Regions from separate parts of the Homo sapiens genome. Here region 2 is linked to region 1. Evidence: fine-mapped expression QTL. A gene starts in region 1. The other region holds a variant in brackets. All regions are shown on one strand. Distances are from middle to middle.

What was found. PIP is the estimated chance that this variant, and not a neighbour inherited with it, causes the effect.
Region 2: its variant is the best candidate, but not a certain one, in a credible set for the expression of NIPSNAP2 in whole blood (INTERVAL, PIP 0.68).

The regions. Positions count from the first base shown.
Region 1 is chr7:55,962,138-55,967,137 of GRCh38, forward strand. It overlaps NIPSNAP2 (nipsnap homolog 2), which reads left to right and starts at 2,448. Exons shown (of 10, transcript NM_001483.3): 1 at 2,448-2,564. The coding sequence starts at 2,473. RefSeq lists enhancers at 2,108-2,187, 2,757-3,490 and silencers at 2,338-2,447, 2,508-2,987.
Region 2 is chr7:55,988,834-55,994,353 of GRCh38, forward strand. The region is part of intron 7 of NIPSNAP2 (nipsnap homolog 2); the gene reads left to right. Among named protein-coding and RNA genes, the nearest start is that of NIPSNAP2, 27 kb to the left of the region's middle. RefSeq lists a silencer at 3,690-3,890. The variant G/C (reference allele first, on the strand shown) is at 3,065.

The DNA.
Region 1 (5,000 bases):
TCCTGGACATCACCTAAGTTCCATTATCCCCTTATTAGGTTACATCTTGTCCTCTTCCCTACTTGAAGTTTCGATTTCCCAATGGCTAAGCTTTCTTTCCTTTTATGGATTAGACACCCCTGCCACTTTTCTCCCTCCCCTCTGACTTCTGTGAGTTTTATCACTCTTCCCAGATGTCTGTACCCGTGCATCTTGTCACATCCACAAGGGAACTGCCCAGACTTGTCTGTTTTCTGAAAATGGACCACTTAAAAAGTACTTCTTACAGGGTTCTCCACAGCTTTACTAAGCATACACTAGTTGAGGCCAGGAGGTCCTCAGCCACACAGCCTCTGGCCTCCTATCCTTGTGTCCCTTGGCCTCCATCCCACTGGCCTCCAAGGGACAGGTGCCTTTCCCTGCTCTGGGGCAAAGCCCTCCTCCATCCACAGGGTCCACCTCTGTCCTCCCTGGTGGCTCCTTGCCATATTAACGTGTTCAAATTCTACCCCAGTCAGAAAACTGCACCCCTTGAGCCCTGATGCTCCCTTGGCCCCCAAGATTACCAGCTTCAGGGAACCTCCCAGTTTTTGTCCACCTTATGACCTCCAAGCAACCCAGTCCTGAGGGCACTTTCCTCTCTGCCTCTGCAGCCCCGCACTGGCCTGGAAATGCTCCCTTTGGTGGCCAGAGCCCCTACTTCTCCCAGGTTCTCCCCCACCCCCAGGGTCCAGCTTCCTTCCTCCTGCCCTCACCTTGGTTGCAGTTTTCATGGTTATATTTGTGGCTTTTTTCTTTTTCTTTTCTTTTTTTTTTTGAGATGGAGTCTCACTCTGTTGCCCAGGCTGGAGTGCAGAGGCACAATCTCGGCTCACTGCACCCTCCACCTCCCAGGTTCAAGCAATTCTCCCACTTCAGCCTCTCGAGTAGCTGGGATTACAGGCACCCGACAACATGCCTGCCTAATTTTTGTATTTTTGTAGAGATGGGATTTCACCATATTGGCCAGGCTGGTCTCGGACTCCTGACCTCAGGTGATCCGCCCGCCTCGGCCACCCGAAGTGCTGGGATTACAGACGTGAGCCACCGTGCCTGGCTCATTTGTGGCTTTTTAAAAAATCTTCCTGGAGGACACATTTTTCCCTCTATAGCGCCAGCCACCCAGATCCACGCCTTTGCTTAAGTTATTTCCTCAAGACAGGGATGCCCTCCCTTCTTCCCCTGGGACTGATATGTCCTGCCAGCTCCTTGGAGAACTTTCTCCCCATCTATCCTCTAATTCACAGCCACCCCCGGTTACATGCTCTCTTTCCGTGCCTCTTTCGTGTCTCATGAACCTGTCCATTTTGACACTTAACACACTCGGTCCAATCATCATTGTACATTCTGTCCCCACTAGACCCAGACGGCCTTGAGGGTAAGGTACCAAGGACTCCCCATGGCCAGTGCCCACCGGTGCTGAAATGAATGGGAACGATGCAGTCCCAAGACCTCAAGAGAACCTTCCCAGTCCTTTCTCCTTAATTTTTTTTGTGTGTGTATGGTGTTTTTTAATTTTTTCCTCACTTGCTTTCTTTTCTTTTCCTTTCTCTCTTTCTTTCTTTCTCCTGCCTCCCTCCCTTCCTTTCTTTCTCCTTCCTTCCCTCCTTTCTTTCTCCTGCCTCCCTTCCTTCCTCCTTTCTTTCTCCTTCCTTCCTTCCTTTCCCTCCCTTTCTTTCTCTCTCTTTCTCTCTTTCTTTCTTTCGCTACAGGACGTCGTGTGTTTGCCCAGGCTGGAGTGCAGTGGCACGATCATAGTTCACTACAGCCTCCACCTCCTGAACTCAAGCGATCCTTCTGCCTCAGTCTCCAGTGTAGCTGGCATCACAGACGTGCTCCTCCATGCCCGGCTAATTTAAAAATGTTTTTGCACAGTGAGGGCTCGCTATGTTGCCCAGGTTGGTCTCGAACTCCTGGCCTCAAGAGATCTCCGGCCTCAGCCTCCCAAAGTGCTGGGATGACAGGCGTGAGCTATTGCGTCCGGCCCCAGAATGCACTTGTTAAAGCGTTGTGGGGCTTTTTGAAATGACAATATATTCATATACTACAAAATTTAAAAGACATTGGCGGGGTGGGGTGGGGGTAAACCCACTGCCACTGCCCCGCCCCAGGCCCTGGATTCCCCTAGGCACAGTGTTACTCTTTCCTTTTGGAGTTTTCCCTGATCATTGAAGTTATGCCCTTGTCCCTTCTGCACCCGCGCTTCTGGGCACCGAGCTCCTCCCGCTGAAGTGATCGGCTTGCACTGACTGCGCTTGGGCTTCGCGCTTTCCCGCAGCGGCCGGGCCTTGGCGCCTGGACGCCCCGCCGACCCCCGCGGCCGCGCGCCCTGCTCCCCCTGGCGGCCGCGCCCCGCACTGCAGTGGCCGCGTTGGGGCCCGGCCGGGGGAGGGGTCGCGCGGCGGCGGCGTCAGCGGCGGCGCCCGGGCGGTGGGAGCCGAGGCGCCGAGCAAGATGGCGGCGCGAGTGCTGCGCGCCCGCGGAGCGGCCTGGGCCGGCGGCCTCCTGCAGCGGGCGGCCCCCTGCAGCCTCCTGCCCAGGCTCCGGTGAGCAGCGCCGCCCTTCCCGGGAGGTGCCGGGGAGGGGCCGCCGCGAGGCGGAGGGCGCGGGTTTCCCGGCGCCGGTCTCCGCCCCGGCCCTGTCCCCAGCGCGGGTGGCTGCCCGGCCTCGGGGCAGTGGGGCCGGAGCTGGGGTGGGGCCGGAGCTGGGGCGGGGTCGGGGCGTCCTCGGGCTCAAGGTCACGGAGGGGACGGGCCGCTCTGCGGCTCCACCCTCGCCCGGGAAGGCCCCCGAGGCTTGGCCCGGAGGCCACATCCTCCCCGCGGCGCTGGCCCGGCCTGCAGGGCCCTGACCGGCGCGACCCGTGGCCAGGGACAGGGACAGCGCGCGCCTGAGGCCGCAGGCCCCGGACGCCGTCTGCTGGGTCCTCGCCGGAGGCTGTTCCAAGCCTGAGTGGCTGCGTCTGCCGAGGACGTTGGTGACCCTGGTCTCTGAGGTGCCGGGAGTAGGGAATAAAAGAGTAAAGCATTGTCCCGGGCCAGCTCTCCGCGGAGCGTAGGGGAAGTTAGAGCTTGGAGGAGGTCAAATCACTTAACGTCTTGGAGTTGAAATTTAAAGCCGGCCGTGGATCTAAAAGTACTTAGAGTTATCAGCACTAAGTTCAGGCGTGGGGCTCTTGTTTAAACTTTTTTTTTTTTCTAACTTCAGTGGATTGGACGTTTGGTTGTCCAAATTCATCACCTTGATATTTGCATGTGCTGTTTTCCACATTCAAACAGCAAAGCCTATCCTGACTTACCCAGAGTTGCTTTCTCGTATTCATTGCTTTGGGTAGTTTAAATTACCTAAGGAACTGTGTGTTAAACTCGCCATGGGCCAGGGAGGTTTCAGTAACATGGTTTATTATTATTATTATTGTTGTTGTTTATTTATTTATATTTTTGAGACGGAGTTTTGCTCTCGTTGCCCCGGCTGAAGTGCAACGGCACGATCTTGTCTCACTGCAACCTCCGCCTCCCGGGTTCAAGTAATTCTCCTGCCTCATCCTCCCAAGTAGCTGGGATTACAGGCATGCACCACCACACCCGGCTAATTTTTGTATTTTTAGTAGAGACGGGGTTTCACCATGTTGGTCAGGCTGATCTCGAACTCCTGACCTCAGGTGATCCACCTGCCGCGGCCTCCCAAAGTGCAGGGATTACAGTCGTGAATCACCAGGCGCGGCCTGATCTTTTTAAAAAGATGAGTCTGACTTGGGAGAGGGGGCAGAATTAAGGGTAGTGGCCAGCTGAGTGGACCCTGGCACTGAGAGTTGAGAGTTTGCAGAGAGCTGTTCTGCCAAAATGTGAGTGCCTACCACGTGCCAGGCACTGTTGACTGTTGAGAGACATCAGTGAATAAGGCGTCCAAGGCCATCCGGAGCTTACCAGTAATTCAGGAGGGCTGGGGAAGAAGAATTCAGAGCAGTTTAGGACCTGGTAAAGTTTGTGAAGGCTGTGTGCTATTCAAGTGGAAACGCAAACAGACAGTTGGCAGTATGACTCCTCAAAGGAGGTGTCTGGGCTACAGGTAACATTTAGGAGTTGTCAGTATATAGGAATGCTAAATGTTAATAGACACATGGATTTCATTATACTGTTTCGTATTTGATTTACGTTTTTCATAATAAAGCCTGGACGCAGTGACTCACACTTGTAATCCCTGCACTTTGGAAGGTTGCGGCAGGAGGATTGCTTGAGCCCAGGAGTTTGAGACCAGCCTGGGCAACATAGTGGAACTCTGTCCCTAATAATAAATAAGTACATAAATAAAAATTTGTATAATGAAACTTTTTTTAAACCATAGGAAGCCGGGTGCAGTGGCTCAGGCTGTAATCCCAGCACTTTGGGAGGCCGAGCTGGGCTGATCGCTTGAGCTCAGGAGTTCGAGACCATCCCAGGCAACATGACAAAACACATCTCTACAAAAAATACAAAAATTAGCCCGGCATGGTGGCACACGCCTGTAGTCCCAGCTACTTGGTAGGCTGAGGTGGGAGTATGGCTTGAACCTGGGAGGTGGAGGTTGCAGTGAGCCGAGATCATGCCACTGCGTTCCAGCCTAGGTGACAGAGCCAGACCCTGTCTCCAAAATAAAACAAACAAAAAAATATAGGAATGTGTGAGATTGCTTGAGGCGAGAGTGTGGAGAGAGAAGGGGCTGCAAAGCAAGTCCTGGGATGTGCAGCGTATATAGGCTGAATGTAGGAGGGGGAGCTGGCAAGCTCATTGTTATGTGGCAGTGGCCAGGAGGAGGGAGGGAGTGCCATCCGCTGCCAAAGTGTTAGGTAAAATGACAGAAGAAAACAGGATTTGCTGAATCAGTTTCAGCAAGGGAGAAGGGCGTCCTCCCGGGAGCCTCATCCCTGCCTGTACATTAGCCAGCGTATTTCACTTAGTGCTGCTCAGCAGCAAGCTTGGAATTCCCAGCCGCTTCCTGGACAT
Region 2 (5,520 bases), 27 kb after region 1:
CAGCCTGGGTGACAGAGCAAGACTCCATCTCAAAAAAAAGAAAAAAAAAATTACATATGACCCAGCAATTTCATTCCTGGGTGTCTACCCAAAAGATACCATCCATATAAACACTTATATATATGTGTATAAGTGTTTCTTATACAAGAATCTTTCCTCCTTGGATCATCAAAGGCTAAATAATGCAAGTTAGAAAGCAAACATCCATGTAAACACTTAAGTGACCATAGCAGCATGTTTTATAATAGCCAACAAGTAGAAACAACCTAAATGCCCATCAGCAGAGGGTGGGATTAGCCAGAGGGCCAGTTTACTAGCCCTGCTTTAAATGATAAAGCTGTCCACGTCCTCCCAGGAGCTACCTTAAATTCAAAACACAAGAAACACAAGAAGCATGCTGATTACAATTGTAACAAAATACCAGCTTTCACCATTATGATTTAATACCGTTTTTAGAAATCCTGACTATTATAATATGAGAAAAGACAGAGACATACAAAGCCTCAATAGGCCGGGTGCTATGGCTCACACCTCTAATTCCAACACTTCGGGCGGCTGAGGTGGGAGGATCCCTTGAGCCCAGGAGGTCAAGACCAGCCTTGGCAACATGGTGAAACCTCATCTCTACAAAAAATACTAAATTAGCCAGGTGCAGTGGTGCACTTGCCTGTAGTCCCAGCTACTCTGGAGGCTGAGCAGGAAGATCACTTGAGCCCTTGCTGTTGAGGCTGCAGCAAGCCATGATCATGCCATTCCACTCCAGCCTGGGCAACAGAGCAAGATCCTGTCCCAAAAAAGCCTCAATAATTAAGAGGGATGCAAGAATAAATTATTGACCATTGGTTAGCTGAAGTCAGTGCCTAGGACAGGAAATGGAAAGAAAAACACTAGTGACATTTAGGGTTCTGTGATGGTGAGATTGTTGGTGTTTTCTTTTTACCAGTCTCCATACTTACTTCATTATGGGATTTCTTTGGAAGCTAAAAATACTGCCTGGGCATGGTGGCTCACGCCTGTAATCCCAGCACTTTGGGAGGCTGAGGCAGACAGATCACTTGAGGTCAGGAGTTTGACACCAGCCTGGCCAACATGGTGAAACCCTGTCTACTAAAAATCCAAAAAAAAAAAAAAAAAATTAGCTGGGTGTGGTGGCGAGCACCTGTAGTCCCAGCTACTCAGGAGATGGAGGCTGCAGTGAGCCAAAATGGCACTACTGCACTCCAGCCTGGGCGACAGAGTGAGACTCCATCTCAGAATATATATATAATTTTGAAACATTGGGATAGTTTCCTAAAATAATCTGAAGCATACATCTATATCTAATTCAACAAAAGATTTATAGCATTTTTTTTCTTTGAAACTTAACATATTTCTGTACCTTAATTTTTGTTTCTTTTCTTTTTTTTTTTTTTTGAGACGGAGTCTTGCTCTGTTGCCCAGGCTGGAGTGCAGTGGTGCGAACTCGGCTCACTGCAAGCTCCGCCTCCCAGGTTCACGCCATTCTCCTGCCTCAGCCTCCTGAGTAGCTGGGACTACAGGCACCAGCCATCACACCCGGCTAATTTTTTGTGTGTTTTTTAGTAGAGACGGGGTTTCACTGTGTTAGCCAGGATGGCCTCGATCTCCTGACCTCATGATCCGCCTGCCTCGGCCTCCCGAAGTGCTGGGATTACAGGCATGAGCCACCGTGCCTAGCCTGTTTTTTGTTTTTAGGGGGAGATGTGTGTGTTTATTTCTTTGAAGTAATTATGTTAACTCTTACTTTTCTTTGGCAGCTTGCTATTTCTGTTTCCTAAGCTGGCATTTCATAACTATTTACCCACAAAGGGGGAGGCCACATGGTGCTGAGAAAAAGCTCTGGGTTTGAGTTACTTGACAGCTCTCACCTTGAAAAGAGAACTTGTACCTTTTTGCCTTTTTTTTTAACTTCAACTTATATCTTTTCTTTTTTCTTTTTCTTTTTTTTTTTTTTGAGACGGAGTCTTGCTCTGTTGCCCAGGCTGGAGTGCAGTGGCGCAGTCTCGGCTCACTCCAATCTCTGCCTCCTGGGTTCAAGCGATTAGCCTGCCTCAGCCTCCCAAGTAGTTGGGATTACAGGCGTGCACCGCCACACCTGGCTAATATGTTTTGTATTTTTAGTAGAGACAGAGTTTCGCCATGTTGGCCAGGCTGATCTCGAACTTCTGACTTCAAGTGATCTGCCTGCCTCAGCATCCCAAAGTGCTGGGATTACAGGTGTGAGCCACCGCGCTCGGCCCCAGTTTTTCTCTTTTTTCGGTTATGAAATTTCCTGCTGTGCATGAAATAATTTCTAAGATCCCTTCTGTCTCCAACAAATAGTTCTGTGATCTTTATTTCTAATGAACCTTTCCTCCTTAGATCATCAAAGGCTAAATAATGGAAGTTAGAATTTCTTTTCATTTGAAAACTAAGAAATACATATTTGGTTGTATGCTACTATTATATACAATTTTTGTTCTTTTGTTTTTGGACTATTGTTGTTAATCATGTAGCTACTCACGGAATAGGATTACTCACTAGTTCAATTTTTGCCCATTACTGATCAAGACTCGCTCGCCGTGGAATCCACAGGGACATACTGGGGTTATTCAGTTATTTAAAAAATTATTTGACCAGGCGCGGTGGCTCACACCTGTAATCCCAGCACATTGGAAGGCCAAGATGGGCAGATCACCTGAGGTCAGAAGTTCGAGACCAGCCTGACCAACATGGAGAAACCCTGTCTGTACTAAAAATAACAAAAATTAGCCAAGTGTGGTGGTGCATGCCTGTAATCCCAGCTACTCGGAAGGCTGAGGCAAGAGAATTACTTGAACCCATGAGGCAGAGGTTGTGGCAAGCCAAGATCGCACCATTGTACTCCACCGTGGGCAACAAGAGTGAAACTCTGTCTCAAAAAAAAAAAAAAAAAATATATATATATATATAATTTATAAAGCCAGTTTAGCATTCAATTTATATTTTGGCACATAGGTAACTAAGATGGTGACCACCTCGTCTGTACAGGCTTCTGATTGTTACCAGGCTAAGGCAAGTATGTTTT[G/C]TTTGCCTACCATAACTAAATTACAAAAATTCAGAATGAAATGAATAATCTGGAATATTTATCACTATCAATGAAAGCCAGGTTTTTTTCTTCTGAATAGAGTTAGAATGCACATTGAAGTGATTTGCTTAATTTCAATAATCAGATTTATAATTTCTGTGAAGATATTGATCACTTAATTCTCAATGTAAAGATTAAAGATGTCATCTTATTTGTGGATAATCCATGGGGGCAATAGCAAGAAGTCCCTTTTTCACCATAAAGGAACCCAAGCGCTTGGGTAAGGTTCCCATCATGGCACTGAGCCCATGGTGGATTAGAGCAGAGGTGTAGAGTGATTTTAAGGAGACTGGATTGCTTGAGCCCAGGAGTTCGAGACCAGCCCAAGCAACATAGCAAGGCCCCATCTCAACAACAACAAAAACATAATAAAAAATAAAAAATTGGCTGTGCTTAGTGGTGCAAGCCTGTAGTTCCAGCTACTCAGGAGGCCGGGGCAGGAGGCTCCCTCGAGCCCAAGAGTTCCAGACTGCAGTCAGCTAAGATCATGCCACTGTACTCCGGCCTGGGTGACAGAGTGAGTCTCTGTCTTAAAAAAGGAGATTGGCTTAGTCACTCACAGGAAATCACTCTTGGATTTTTTTCCCCCTTTTGAGATGTTATCATTCAGTATATATGAAGTTTGCCTCCAGGAAGAGAATGCTCAGCCAAGCCAACTCAAGCATCTTGTGCCTTGAGAGTGACATCTTTCACTGTCATTGTTAGTAGGTTGCTATCCTTGTTTATATGCTGCCAGCTCTTTTGAATGAATTAGAGTGAATCTGTCTTCCCAAGTCTTGTCACCTGTGGGACCCTGATATGACTGAGACTTCAGGCCAGAGCCTGGGCAGTGTGGTATGGATTTACTGGGTAATGCATGGTGTGTCATCTCCTGATAGACCTTAACCATGTGTCTTCTGGTGACCTCCCTATGTCATTTGAAGCCCCTTCCTTTTCACCTTTGATTCTAGAAGACTGCTTTTGAAAAAATGGGCACATTTTAAAACATTTTTAGGAATTCAGATGCATCACTAAATATTTTTTTTTTAAGTGGTGCAAGTATGAAAGGAAAGGGCTCTGAGCCAGGCGCAGTGGCTCACACCTGTAATCCAAGCACTTAGGGAGGCTGGGGTGGACAGATCACTTGAGGTCAGGAGTTCAAGACCAGCCTGGCCAATGTGGTGAAATCCCATCTCTACTAAAAATACAAAAATTAGCCAGGCGTGGTGGTGCACACCTGTAATCCCAGCTACACAGGAAGCTGAGGCAGGAGAATAGCTTAAACCTGGGAGGCAGAGGTTGCAGTGAGCCGAGATCCCGCCACTGCACTCCTGAGTGGCAGAGTAAGACTCCGTCTAAAAAAAAAAAAGGGCTGTAGGCTGGCCTGGTGGCTCATGCCTGTAATCCCAGCAGTTTGGGAGGCCGAAGCGGGGCAGATCGAGACCAGCCTGGCCAACATGGCGAAACCTCATGCCTACCAAAAATACAAAAAATTAGCCAGACGTGGTGGTGGGCGCCTGTAATCCCAGCTACTCGGGAGGTTGAGGCAGGAAAATCGCTTGAACCCAGAAGGTGGAGGTTGCAGTGAGCCAAGATCGTACCATTGCATTCCAGCCTGGGCAACAGCGAGACTCCATCTAAAAAAAAAAAAAAAAAAGCCGAGCGTGATGTCATGTGCCCATAACCCCAACTACTCAGGAGGCTGAGACACGAGAATAACTTGAACCCAGGAGATGGAGATTGCAGTAAGCTGAGATCACGCCGCTGCACTCCAGCCTGGGAGACAGAGGAAGACTGTTTCAAAAAAAATTAAAGAGCTGATACCTTTTGCAGTGGGAAATTCTTAAAGTTTTAAGCCAAGTGCCTATTTTTAACTGATCATAGTGTGATGTCCACAGAGGCACAATGTATATTAGTACTTTCTTCCATATTTGGTACATAATGAATGCCTTTGGTACTCATTTTCTGAATGGTTTGCTCTAGTAGGAAAGAAAAAAAAAAAAAGCAAGAGGCAGCTTTGCCTGCACTACTGAGGCTGTACCACCAGAAAGCTTCATTCCCATGGTTCCTCTGTATGGCATCCAAGAAGTTGCAGAGTCCCTTGTGTAGTTCAGAGAGCAGGGGTGTTTCTCAGGATTTCAGAGTCATCAGCTGCTTTGAAGGTGTGCTTCCTTCACCTGTGTTTTAACGCCCTGCCCCAGGGGTGGTCCCTGTCTCCCTTGGGTACAGTGCCCTGTGGCACCTTGGGTGCTCTAGTTCCAGGTTTGCCTCGCTTCCCCTCTGAGGGTGTTCTGGAGAAGCAGTGCTTTTTAAATTGACGGGTCCCATCCTCTGCCAGTTCTAGACTTTATTTCAAGAATCACCAGTGCAACTATATATACATCTTCAGGTTGCTGTTTTTATTTTTAATAATTATT